Linked DNA regions of Homo sapiens: regions 2, 3 and 4 are each reported to be linked to region 1. The links are microRNA targets in miRTarBase. Many come from high-throughput screens and were not tested one by one. Region 1 holds a microRNA gene; each other region holds the end of a gene's coding sequence.

Region 1 (3,110 bases):
GTTTTGTTTTGTTTTGTTTTGTTTTTGTTTTTTGTTTTGAGACAGAGTTTAGCTCTGTCACCCAGACTGGAGTGCAGTGGTGCGATCATCTCAGCTCACTGCAACCTCTGCCTCCCGGGTTCAACGATTCTCCTGCCTCAGTCTCCCGAGTAGCTGGGATTACAGGCGCCCACCATCACGTCCAGCTAATTTGTGTATTTTAGTAGAGACAGGGTTTCACCATGTTGGCCAGGCTGGTCTGGAACTCCTGACGTCAAGTGATCCGCCCACCTTGGCTTCCCAAGGTGCTGGGATTACAGGTGTGAGCCACTGCGCCCAGCCTCTCAGCAATTTTGTATTTGTGACTTTGTAATCTTTTCCTTAAAGAGTGCCCCCCCAAATGGTTTTAAGCTTCAGGCTCCTGGGAACCTAGATCTGTCCCCAGGGTGGGGCGGTGGAAAGCGTTCCAACCCCCTCCCACTTGCTTTTTGCATGCTGGCTCTGGGGCTTTGGGTGAAACTCCCCACTTTGCCATCTATACAATGGGGATGAATGAGGCGATGCGATGCTTAGAGGACCCTCTGTTCAAAACTCGCCCAACCCACAGAGACCTTCACAAGCCTGCACTTGGTCCATCACCAACAGCCCTGTGGGGAAAACCGAGCTCCTACCCCCATTTTCCAGCTGAGATAACTGAGGCGTGAAGCCCCGCTGCCGCTCGTCGCTGAGGCTGTGAGCAGGCTGGAGCCTCATCCCCCACTGCTCCCTGGGGTCTCCTCCCGGGATGCCAAGCCTGGGTAGCAGGAGGGGGTCTCCAGGGTGCGGGGGCGCTCTGGGGAGGCCGGGGGCGGAGGCGGTGTCCCGCACTGTCCCACCGCAGGGCCGACCTCGGCCCTTATCTGCTCCGGCAGCTTCCGCCCCCCAACTCCAGCCCCCGCCGCAGGCCCGGCCCCCGGCCCCGCCCCCCTAGGGCCCCTCCCCCGCGCCGCCCGCCCCCAGGGGAGCGCCCGAGCTGCCCGGCTGCGGCCCAGTCGAGCGGAGAGGGGGCCCAGCCCCCCCAGGTGGGCAGCCGGAAGTGATAAATAACCGAGACGGGGGGGGGGGGACACCATTGCAGTGAGGCCCGAGTTGTCCCGGGATACTCGCCCACAACCCAATAGGAGCTCCCCAAACTAAGTTGTCTTCGCCAAAAATGGGAGGGGGTCTGAGAAGGAAGAGGAAAGGGGTTCCTTAAGGCCCCAGGGACAAGAGGAACAGTGGAGTCAGTTTAAACAGGGCTCTGAGAGGCACACGACCTCCCCCCACACTAACAATGCCAAGTGGCCTCCCTGGGACAGGTGTGGGGGGGGGAGAGAGAAGCGGAGACACCTCAGAGAAAGTGAAAAGGAAGTCACAACTGGAGATGCCTGCGGAGTGCAGCGGGGCATAGCCTCAAAAATACATAAGGAACTCTTGCAAATCAAGGAAAAGAAAATCAAGCAATCCAATATAAAAAAATAGATAACACACACGCAGCGCAGGCATGTTAGGGCAGAGAAAACGAATTTGCTCAAATACCATCTAAGGGAGGCTCAGCCTCACTGCTGATGAGGGCGATGCAAATTCAGACCACAATGAGATGCTATTTACACCATCTGAAGGGCAGAAGGGAACTGTCCTTCAGCCAGAGCTGGCTGAAGGGCAGAAGGGAACTGTCCTTCAGCCAGAGCTGGCTGAAGGGCAGAAGGGAACTGTCCTTCAGCCAGAGCTGGCAAGGAGGGGAGCAGCAGGCCCTCCTGCATGTGGCTAGTCAGGATGCGGCTCCAAATAGCCCCCTAGGGAGAGCAATCTGGCCTTATCTCACGAAGTGGAGGTACAGAGGCTGTCACCCACACATCCCCCCAGGCAGCAAATCAAGATAAGTTCTCTGACAAGTGCGCCAAGAGACAGGGACAAAAATATTCACGTTGTCCCTAATAGCAAAAAAAATCCTGAAATAACCCCAGGGCCCACTGATAAGAGAATGGATAAATAAATTACAGTAGACACATTCACAGGGTGGAGATCATTCAGCAATGCAAGCAGGTGACCCACAGGTTCACCAATATCATGAAGGAATCTTTGCACCATGGTATTGAGTGGAAAAAGTCAGTCCCAGAAGATGGATACTTGCGGCTCTCTGTATCCCTGGGTTCCACATCCATGGATTCAACCAACCTCGGATGGAAAATATTTGGAGAAAAAAATGGATGGTTGTGTCTGTACTAAACATGTACAGACTTTTTTTCTTGTCATTGTTCCCCAAACAATACCATGTAACAGCGATTAACATAGCATTTACATTGTTTTCGGCAATCTAGAGATGATTTAAAGTATATGGGAGGATGTGGTAGGCTAAATATGCAAATATTTAATACCACACCATTTTATATCAGGGATTGAGCATCTGTGGATTTTGGTATCCTCAGGGGGTCTTGGAACCAACTCCCCCCCATCCCCGCCAGGACGCCAAAGGACAGCTGTCCTTACCCTTCTCATGAAGTTCAAAACCAAGCCAAGCCATATCTTTACAAATAACAATGTTCCTTCCCTGTTTCTAATACCTTTGTTATTAGGAGATGGTATGATTACCCACATAAAAGACTCTAGGCTGGGCATGGTAGCCCAAGCCTGTGTCCCTAGCACTTTGGGAGGCCAGGAGTTCAAGACCAGCCTGGGCAACATGGCAAAACCCCATCTCTACAAAAAATACCAAAAAAAAATTAGCCGAGCATGGTGGTTTGTGCCTGTGGTCCCAGCTACTTGGGAGGCTGAAGTGGGAGGATCATTTGAGCCCAGAAGGCCGAGGTTGTGGTCAGCGGAGATTGTGCTATACTCCAGCATGGGCAACGGAGTGAGACTCTGTCTCAAAAAAAAAAAAAAAAAAAAAAAAAAAAAAATATATATATATATATATATATATATATATCCCCACAAATATAAAATATCTAGAAGTAAACTTGGTAATAATTATGCAGAACCTATAGGAAAACAATTGTTAAATTCACTAAATAATGTAAAACCTTAAAATAGTTTTTTTTTTAAAAAAGCCAATTCAAATGGAATATTGTCTAGGTATACATACATATGTCAGAAAAAGCTTTATCAAAAAA
Region 2 (3,110 bases), not on the chromosome of region 1:
GCTGAAAGTGGACTCTGTTGTGAGTATCCTAAAAAAGGGAAAGTGTCTGACAAAAGGATAAATTAGTCTAGAACTAACAAAGCAAGGTCAATGCAAAAGCCAGGGCATGTGTCTGTAGCTGAAAGAGGAGGAAAGAGCCAATGGTCCTGAGCTGATTACTGCCCAGTTCACTGCACTTGACTACACAAGCCTGGGAGCTGCAGGAGAGCCAGCTGCCTTTCTAATTAGGACACTTGGGACACAACAACTTTTTTGGTCATAAAAGTGGTTGTATAGATTTAATCTTTGAAACAGTCTTTAAAAACAAACAGAGATTTTGCATGGTCAGCTAGAAGCTGCTATTCTTCAAAAGTGAAGGGTGATCTATTGGGATCATCTCCAGGAAGTCCTCCTTATAAGCAGAGATGAGCCTGATCTCTAAACCCCTCAAGTTCTGAAGAAAAGTCCATTTCCTCACTATTTTGAGTTTTCATTAAAGTGATAGATAACACGGTGGTGGGGGATGGGAAAGTCCTCCCACTCTAAGGTTAAGATGGAGCCAAGACTGCAAGGAGATTTAAAAAATCTCCCTGAACTTAAAAAACAAACAAAAATCCTTGGCATTATGATGAGATAAAATTTAAATTGTCCACTACAGAACAGTAAACTGTTTTTTAGAGATTCTGGTCTTTTCCTCTTTTAATCTTCTTGGTTTAAAGTGTCTATGCATTTATATTTAGTGAAAATGAATGGGCACATTGGGATTAAAACTCCAGAGTCAGAATCTGGCCCAAGTAATATTGGCATTAATATCACTTAGCTATAACCAAATGAACTAAGTGCTCAGGAACAGCCAACTAAACACTTCTGTCAGTTGTCAATCTCTCAGTGATCCCAACAGAGCACAGTGTGAGGATGGTAGTACAGTCCTCTTCAAAGGGACAGGGAACAAACACGGTGTGGTTGTGATACCCATCAAATTATACCACTGAATTACAAAATGTTTTTAATGTCTCCCCTTATAATTATATTGTAATGTGTGTCATAATTGGTAACACATTTGAACTTGGTGTTTCTTTCATTAGTTAATATCTAGATCTATGCAAGTTGCTCTAATTAGATTGCTTTCTGAAAATAATAATAAGGCAGGTTTAGGACCAGGCAGAACGTGAGCATAACGATAGTGTCTTTCCTTACCATATTCGGTTTAATTTTAGGCATGATCTTACCTTCCTAAAGAGGGGCAATGAGCTCATCACTGAACTACAGCACATTTTTTAAACAGTTATTTGTCGCATTGCAAGCAATCTAGATGAGATTTCAGGAAAAGAATGAGCTACCCCACTCAAATGCATAACAAATATGCTTGACTGGCATTTGGAAAGAAGAAAGAAACTCTTATTAAAATTTAACATCAACTTGGCCAGACGTTGGGCTGAATTGGAAGAACAAAGTGCTGCTCAGTAAAAAGCCAGGGATGGGAATGATTTGATTTCTACTCATATGGCTGAAATAAAGAAAATGAGAATGGCCAGCTACTTCCTTCATCGCAGGTCTACATAATCTTGGATTCCAACTCTTGCCACTGCACAATGGCTTTTTCTTTTGAAATGCTTAATTTGTAGTTGTATAGATCTGACTTCAGTGGAAAGAGGGAATATCCAGTGCTACAATGTTCTCAAAGAGAGCAAATGGTTCTGGATTGGTGGTGGTGCACACAATGATACGGAAAACGATCGCACCTCAGCACTAGTCACCTGGGCACCTGGCCTGGCCAAGATCCTCCTCCACTTTAACCCAGCTGGAATGGGTAACATGGTTACCACACTTTAGGGTACACAGGATTCCATAACAACTTCTAAATATTCTTCTTCCTTTTCCTTTGTGTGTCCCAGGGTCTTAAGCTGATTCATTGCCTCTATATTCTGAGAGAACACCCAGCCTAGTGCATGGGTTGGGATTATGGGAGACACTAAATTTAGGCTGGAATGGCCTTACAGATGTGGCCACAGTGCTATTATTTGCCATAACAATGCCTACATCAAGAGACGCAATGCTATCCACAACATAGGCTTTCTTTGTGATCATGAAAGATGCACTGCCTTATATCCCACTCACCACAGAGGGACCATCTTGCTGTAGAATGACTGAATGGACTGGTGAGGACTGCATCAGAGGCATTTCTTTAAAAAAGGAATCACAAGGGAGTCCATCGTGATTTGCCTATTTTGTCATGAAGCATCAAAGTTACCCAGAACCTTAAACACATCAAGTACAAATGCAACATATACAAGCAAAGCGAATTCAATAGGATTCCTAGCAAATTATTAAACTCCACGGTGGTAGGGCAGGGAGTAGTTGCAGAGGGAAGGAGTGAGATGGTGATAGAGATGGAGATAGGGAGATAGATAGAAGATGAGATATGCAAACCAGTTTTTTACGTTTCCATTTTTCAGAGTCTGATCCCACCAGCAAAACAGGTCCTGCCCCAGTTGGCCAGAGGCCTCTGATTATGAGGACTATCTGAGCAGAGCTGCAGAAACTATAGCTCTAGTCCTCATAAAAATGAGAGGCAGTTTATTATTAAAATCCAAACATGAAAATACTTCAAACCATTTCGTTAGCAGCATAGTCCCAAATGCAACATTCCCTTTATCAATCAAGTCTAAACCATGTGGCTTCAATGCATCTGTCCTGCTAAATCTGCTAAAACTCTTAAAAGAGCAGTGCAAAAGAGAAAAGACATCTTTCCTTTTAAATGGCAGACAATCCTTATAAGACATTCTCTAGGGTTCTATTCTGAAGGCTATTCAATTTGATTTGGGGCACTTTTTAAACAGCCATTTGGCGCTTTCCGTTTGGAGTTCTTAGGCACAGTGTGACAGAGTCAGCTTGGTGAGCCCTTCCCCATGCATTCGGTACAGCAGCTGAAACTCAGCAGGCAGCTGGTGGGACTCCTGCCACTTGGTGGTAAATTTGGTTCCTTTTTTGTCATAGTAATGGTATGGAAGATCTTCCCTTGTGTTGGGGTCAAATCCAAACGGCCAAAATCCATACAAGTGGATCTCTTCACATATTGCTGATGCAAGGGTGTACATAAGAATACCTGTGCTCAGCCGTTTAGGTGACAA
Region 3 (3,093 bases), not on the chromosome of region 1:
GCCAAGCCCCACCTCATCACACACGGCTTCTCCTCCCGCCTGGGCAAGCGGGTGAGTCTGGGGGCCTTCAGGCTGGGGCTGCGGGCCAGGCCAGGCATTTGCCACTCTGTTTCCCTCTCTTTCCTTGTGCCCCAGGTCTCTGACATCCTCCGATACCTATTTCCCGTGCCCAAAGATGACAGCCACCGGGTCATCACCTTCGCAAACCAGGACGACTACATATCATTCCGGTGGGTCCACGGGCCATGCCCCAGGAAAGCATCCCCACCCTGTGTACCTCGTGCTGCTTGCCGTTGACCCACAGCTGTTCCCTCCCAGGCACCATGTGTATAAGAAGACAGACCACCGCAACGTGGAGCTCACTGAGGTCGGGCCCCGCTTTGAGCTGAAGCGTGAGTTTGAGGCTGAATCCCGTGTCTGGGGTGGGGAGGGGAGGCTGGCTGTGCCGGGGCTGATGCCATCCCTGCCTGCAGTGTACATGATCCGTCTGGGCACGCTGGAGCAGGAGGCCACAGCAGACGTGGAGTGGCGCTGGCACCCTTACACCAATACCGCACGCAAGAGAGTCTTCCTGAGCACCGAGTGAGCACACTCACCACTCAGTCAGGACATGGACTTGGAACTCAGGATGGGGCTGTCATAGACAGACCCACCAGTAGGAACTGTCACAGAATGGCCTGCTGAACTGGGATGTGGAACTGTGGCGGGTGGAGAGGTCTGAATAAACCGTCTGTGTCATGGCCCCGCCTGCCTCTGAGTGGTCAGGCCAAGTCTGCAGGGCAAAGCCCATGGGATCCCTTTGGGTGGGGACCTGATGGCTGTGGGACGTGCTTGGGCCTGGAGTCAGTGTGGGGGTTAACAGAGAGAGAGATTTGATGCTAACGTCCCCTCAAGAGTGAGGGTCATATGAGCTCTTCAGCAGGCAGATGTGGGTAGCAGGGCCAGCCTGTGTCAGGGGCAGCCCACCAAGTTAACTCACTGAGTGGAAGCCGCCAGTGTGCCAACGCGGAGGGGACAGGCCACACCCAGTGCTCAGCAGCTGATTCCTCATGTAAGTGGCATCATGTGGTATTTGTTTTGTGTCTGGCTTATTTCTATTAACATAATGTTCTCCAGGTTCCTCCATGTTATTGCAAATGATAGGATTTCTTTCCTTGTAAAAAATAACATGCCACATTTTCTTACCAATCCGTCCACCAATAGACACTTAGGTCGTTTTCATAGTTTGGCAGTTGTGGAAATGCTGCAGTAAACATGGGAGTATAGCTATCTTTTGAAGATAATGATTTCATCTCTTTTTTATATGTATACCCAGAAGTGGGATTGCTGCATCAAATGGTGGTTCTATTTTTAATTTTTTGAGGAACCGCCATACTGTTTTCCATAAAGGCTGTACTAATTTCCATTCTCACCAACAGTTCACTAGGGTTCCCTTTTCTCCACATTGTTGCCAACATTCTTTATCTTGTGTTTTTTAATAACAGCTATCCTAACAGGTATGAGGTGATCTCTCTCATTGCGGTTTTGATTTGCATTTCCCTAACGGTTGGTGATACTGAGCATTTTTGCATACACCGGGTCATTTGTTCTTTGTTGTTGACTTGAGTCCCTTATATAGTTTGGATACTGCTGTGGCCTGAATGTTTGTGTCCCCCAAAAATTCGTATATTGAACTCTCATCCCTAAGGTCAACAGTTTAGGGAAGCGATTAGGTCCTGAGGACTCTGCCCTCTTGCATAGAATTAGTGCTCTTATAAAAGATGCCCGAGGGAGCTCTTTTGCCCCTCCTGCCATGTGAGGACACAGCTAGAAGCTACCATCTGTGAACCAGGAAGCCCCCCTCACCAGACACTGAATCTGCTGGAGCCACCATCTTGGACTTCCCAGCCTCCAGAGCTGTGAGAAATAAATGCCTGTTGTTTAAGCTACCCAGTCTGTGGTATTTTGTTAGAACAGCCCAAGTTGAGACAGATAGTAACCCTTTACCAGATACATGGTTTGCAAATAGTTTTTCCCACTCTGTAGATATAGCCATTGAGAAGCTCCTCAAGATAGACATTAAATACAAAGAAGCATGGTGTGAAACGCCATGTGTGATATGCTGTCAGTGTGCAAAAGAGGCAGGGAGGGCCCTGCACTTGCATGTATGTGCTGCATCATCCCCAGAAGGCTGAACTCCTTGCTGGTGCACTGGGTACCCAGGGAGGAGGGAGGTTCTTTACTGTAATGTTAGCAGGTGAACATTGTATCCACTTGACCACGAAGAACTGCCCTCTTGAGTTCTCTGCCCATTTTTTGGGGGGGTACAGGCGGACACTTGGAAGACATCCTTATGATAAAAAAGCATACAGAAGGCCTGGTGCAGTCACTCACACCTGTAATAATCCCAGCGCTTTGGGAGGTCAAGGCAAGGAGGTTCACTTGAAGTCAGGAGTTTGAGACCAGCCTGGGCAATACAGGGAGAGCTCATCTCTACAAAACATTTTTAAAAACACACACAAGTGCACATGGTGAAAAGTAAACCATCATCCTCCTTCCACCCCAAAGAACCCATCCCTAGTCTCCAGAGGTCATCAGTATTGACTTTTTAAAGAAGCTGGACTGATATCTTTTATTCATGGTATCCATAAGTTTGTTGACTGTTAATTATATTTTAACCTGAAAGGGATCATGTTGTGCACACTACTCTGAACCTTGCATCTTACCCTTTAATGACAAATGGATGCCACAGGGCTCCAAGGCTGTCTAGTACACATGGATCTGCCTCCTTCCTTGTGGCTACATTGTTGGGTGGCTTCCTGTTTTTACCCCCACAAATACTGCTTCGAGAGCATCATTGAACATACTTCTGTGCATATTTATGCAAGTGTATCTGATGCATACATCCCTACAAGAGGAATTCGGGCGTGGTGGCTCACACCTGTAATCCCAGCACTTCGGGAGGCTGAGGCGGGCGGATCACCTGAGGTCCGGAATTCAAGACCAGCCTGGCCAACATAGTGAAACCCCATCTCTACTAAAAATACAAAAAATTGACCTGGCATGGTGGCGGGTGCCTGTAATCCCAGCAGCTCAGGAGGCTGAGGCAGGAGA
Region 4 (3,110 bases), not on the chromosome of region 1:
AACAGTTAAGCTCTTGTCTTCTCTGAACTAACACCTTAGTTATTTTATCTATCTGAAACAACACCTCACAGAATGGCAACACCTCTAAGGTTAACACCTTGGTTATCTGAGCTATCTGAGGTTTCACTTCAGTGATCTCAGTCCCTCTGAAGTAACACCTCAGTAATATTAGTTCCTCTGGAATTTCACTTCAGTGGTTTCAGTTGCTCTGAAGTAAAACACCAGTGATGTCAGCTCCTTTCTCAAGTTAACCAATCAGTTACCAGTTCCTCTCTGGAGTTAATAATTCACTGTTGTCAGTGTCTGTACATAGAAGGGGGAACAAGCTTTTGTCTACATCGTGGTGTTTTGCTGTGGACTTAAGGATCAATGCCTGGATGGGCACAGCAGCTCATGCCTGTAATCCTAACCTTTTGGGAAGGTGAGGTGGGAGGACTGCTTCAGCCCAGGAGTTTGAGGCAGCGGTGAGCCATGATGGCACCACTGCACTCCAACCTGGTGACAGAGCAAGACCGTCTTTAAAACAAACAAAAAGGATCAATATCCTGGTGACTATTTCCTCCCCACCAAACTGACAGATGTTGGGGGCGGGGGCCTGGGGTGAAGACAGCCCTTCTCTATCTCAGGCACTTAACATGTTGAGAATTTCAAGTGGCTTGAACCTCATACATTTGTTTCGTTTGCAGCTGGCTGCTACTAGAAATGGTTCTGATTCGGTTTCAAGAACTGTATCCTTGGCCGGGTGCGGTGGCACACGCCTGTAATCCCAGCACTTTGGGAGGCCGAGGCGGGCGGATCACCTGAGGTCAGGAGTTTGAGACCAGCCTGGCCAACATGGTGAAACCTCATCTCTACTAAAAATACGAAAATTAGTCGGGCGTGGTAGCAGGTGCCTGTAATTCCAGCTACTTGGGAGGCAGAGGCAGGAGAATTGCTTGAACCTGGGAGGTGGAGATTGCAGTGAGCTGAGATTGTGCCATTGCACTTCAGCCTGGGGAACAAGAGCAAGACTTTGTCTCAAAAAAAAAAAAAAAAGTATGCTTAAAACAGAACAAATAATTCTGAATACAAATTTTTAATTATGAATAAACTAGATTCATCTTCATCATAGTAATATGGCAATGGATACTGGACTCTTGAACCAGGAGTAAAAAAATGAAAAAAAAAACCCCTTCAAATATAGGAATAGAAATACTAGAGATAGTAAAAAAGAGCTATCTGAATTTGAGAAATGTATGTTTTAAATATATCTACCAAAGAACAGTATTTTCAGCATTGTTTTGGGGGAAATACCATAAGATGTAAAGAGGTACCCACTTGGTGTAACAGCTATGAGGTCTGCTGAGTGTGAAGCTCCCCTCCTTTGCCTGCATGGGAATTGAGACATCTCACGGTTTCTGGGGCACAGGATCTGCAGGTCATAAGGGCAAGTTTTGAGGAAAATACCCATTTTTGAGTTGAATTTTTACTAAAAAGTTAGCATAACCTTTCTGATCTTGAATAAAGTTAAAAGCTCCAGATAAAGGGTTTTCTAGGCCAGGCATGGTGCCTCACGCCTGTAATCCCAACACTTTCGGAAGCAAAGGTGGGAGGATCACTTGAGGCCAGGAGTTCGAGACCAGCCTGGCCAACACGGTGAAACTCCGTCTCTACTAAAAATACAAAAATTAGCCAGGTGTGGTGGCGCATATCTATAATCCTAGTTACTTGGGAGACTGAGGCACAAGAAAAGCTTGAACCTGGGGTGGGGGCGGAGACTGCAGTGAGCCAAGATCATGCCACTGCACTGCAGCTTGGGCAACAGAGCAAGACTATCTCCACACACACATACAAAAAGTTTTTTAAATTTATGTAATTTCTCACTAATATATAAGCTTTTTCCTTGTTTCATACAAAACAGGACTCCACACACTTAGGATGGAAATCCACACACTTAGGATTTCCAACCATTTTACATGATGCTTGATGAAAATATCTTTTTATATCACTTTATCCATACAATACTTTAGTCTTTTAAGAGAATACTGAAAATAGTCCGACTTTCAAATTTTAAGTGCAATAATTAGTATGGTTAATTGATATTTAGGAAGGGCATGTAATGTTCTTAGAAAAAGAACTTTATTTGGAATGTAAGATTTTATTGGGATAATGGTTCTTATGCCTTAAATTCCCTTAGTTCAAATAAACTAATGTTAAAGAATTATGGCTGTTTTTTACCAAAATTCTCTACAATTGTATGATTACTCTCCAACATAACTTCAAGATGTTGAGGAAAATAAAACAGGTAGTCTCTGAAGTTTTTCCACAGGAACAGCACGCTAAGTGCTTCTTTCTGGAGTTATTTTGTGACACTGAATCGCCAAAGAAAAGCTTCCTATAGAGTTAACAGAGACTTCTCTTGGGCTGAAGGCTGCTTGTGGTTCCACATGCAGTTTCTGTGAGAATGGATTCTTGTGTCAGCCATGGGTCACAACTTTCTGTGCACTTTCTGGTGCTGGATTAGGTGGCCATGCTGGTTGAAGGCACGCCCACACTCCCCGCACTCATAGGGCTTCTCGCCTGTGTGGATCCGCTGGTGCTGGATGAGCACTGAGTACTGGCTGAAGGCCTTCCCGCAGCTATTGCACTCATATGGCTTCTCGCCCGTGTGGGTCCTCAGGTGCACAATCAGAGTTGCTTTCAGGCTGAAGGCTTTGCCACATTCTGTGCACTGGAAGGGCTTTTCACCTGTGTGGATTCTCTCATGCTGGATCAGAGACCGGCGTGCACTGAAGGCGTGCCCACATTCACCACACACATAGGGCTTCTCCCCAGTGTGGACTCTCTGGTGCTGGATCAGGTGTGAGTGCTGAACGAAGGCCTTCCCACATTCGTAGCATGCATAGGGCTTTTCCTCGGTGTGGATCCGCTCGTGATTCATCAGTGTGGAGCGGTGGCTGAAGGTCTTCCCACACTCACTGCACTCATAGGGCTTCTCCCCGGTGTGCACGTTGTGGTGCTGAATGAGGACTGAGCGGTCGCTGAAGGCCTTCCCACACTCGCTGCACGTGTAGGGCTTCTCCCCGGTGTGGATCCTCTGGTGCTGCAGCAGTGTCCTCTTCACACTGAAG

Evidence for each region. Region 1 holds the annotated microRNA hsa-miR-4487 (AGAGCUGGCUGAAGGGCAG, at 1,645-1,663, shown strand). A microRNA usually pairs through its seed, bases 2 to 8, with sites in the 3' UTR of a target mRNA and lowers its output. Matches are read on the target gene's strand: a 7mer-m8 pairs with bases 2 to 8, a 7mer-A1 pairs with bases 2 to 7 and ends in A, and an 8mer does both.
Region 2: the mRNA of ST8SIA3 is a reported target of hsa-miR-4487. Seed matches in the 3' UTR shown: 7mer-A1 at 148-154.
Region 3: miRTarBase lists IMP4 as a target of hsa-miR-4487. The part of its 3' UTR that is shown has no 7-base or 8-base seed match.
Region 4: the mRNA of ZNF250 is a reported target of hsa-miR-4487. Seed matches in the 3' UTR shown: 7mer-A1 at 962-968.

The regions. Positions count from the first base shown.
Region 1 is chr11:47,399,340-47,402,449 of GRCh38, forward strand. MIR4487 (microRNA 4487) reads left to right here and starts at 1,631; the gene lies at 1,631-1,703. The region is part of intron 2 of SLC39A13-AS1 (SLC39A13 antisense RNA 1); the gene reads right to left. RefSeq lists a silencer at 690-1,049 and an enhancer at 1,099-2,099.
Region 2 is chr18:57,360,014-57,363,123 of GRCh38, reverse strand. ST8SIA3 (ST8 alpha-N-acetyl-neuraminide alpha-2,8-sialyltransferase 3) reads right to left here. Exons shown (of 4, transcript NM_015879.3): 4 at 1-3,110. The coding sequence ends at 2,847. Among named protein-coding and RNA genes, the nearest start is that of ST8SIA3, 9.0 kb to the right of the region's middle.
Region 3 is chr2:130,345,883-130,348,975 of GRCh38, forward strand. IMP4 (IMP U3 small nucleolar ribonucleoprotein 4) reads left to right here. Exons shown (of 9, transcript NM_033416.3): 6 at 1-51; 7 at 136-230; 8 at 319-392; 9 at 474-2,085. The coding sequence ends at 586. Among named protein-coding and RNA genes, the nearest start is that of IMP4, 4.5 kb to the left of the region's middle.
Region 4 is chr8:144,879,048-144,882,157 of GRCh38, forward strand. ZNF250 (zinc finger protein 250) reads right to left here. Exons shown (of 6, transcript NM_001109689.4): 6 at 1-3,110. The coding sequence ends at 2,468. Among named protein-coding and RNA genes, the nearest start is that of ZNF250, 21 kb to the right of the region's middle. RefSeq lists enhancers at 1-139, 340-529.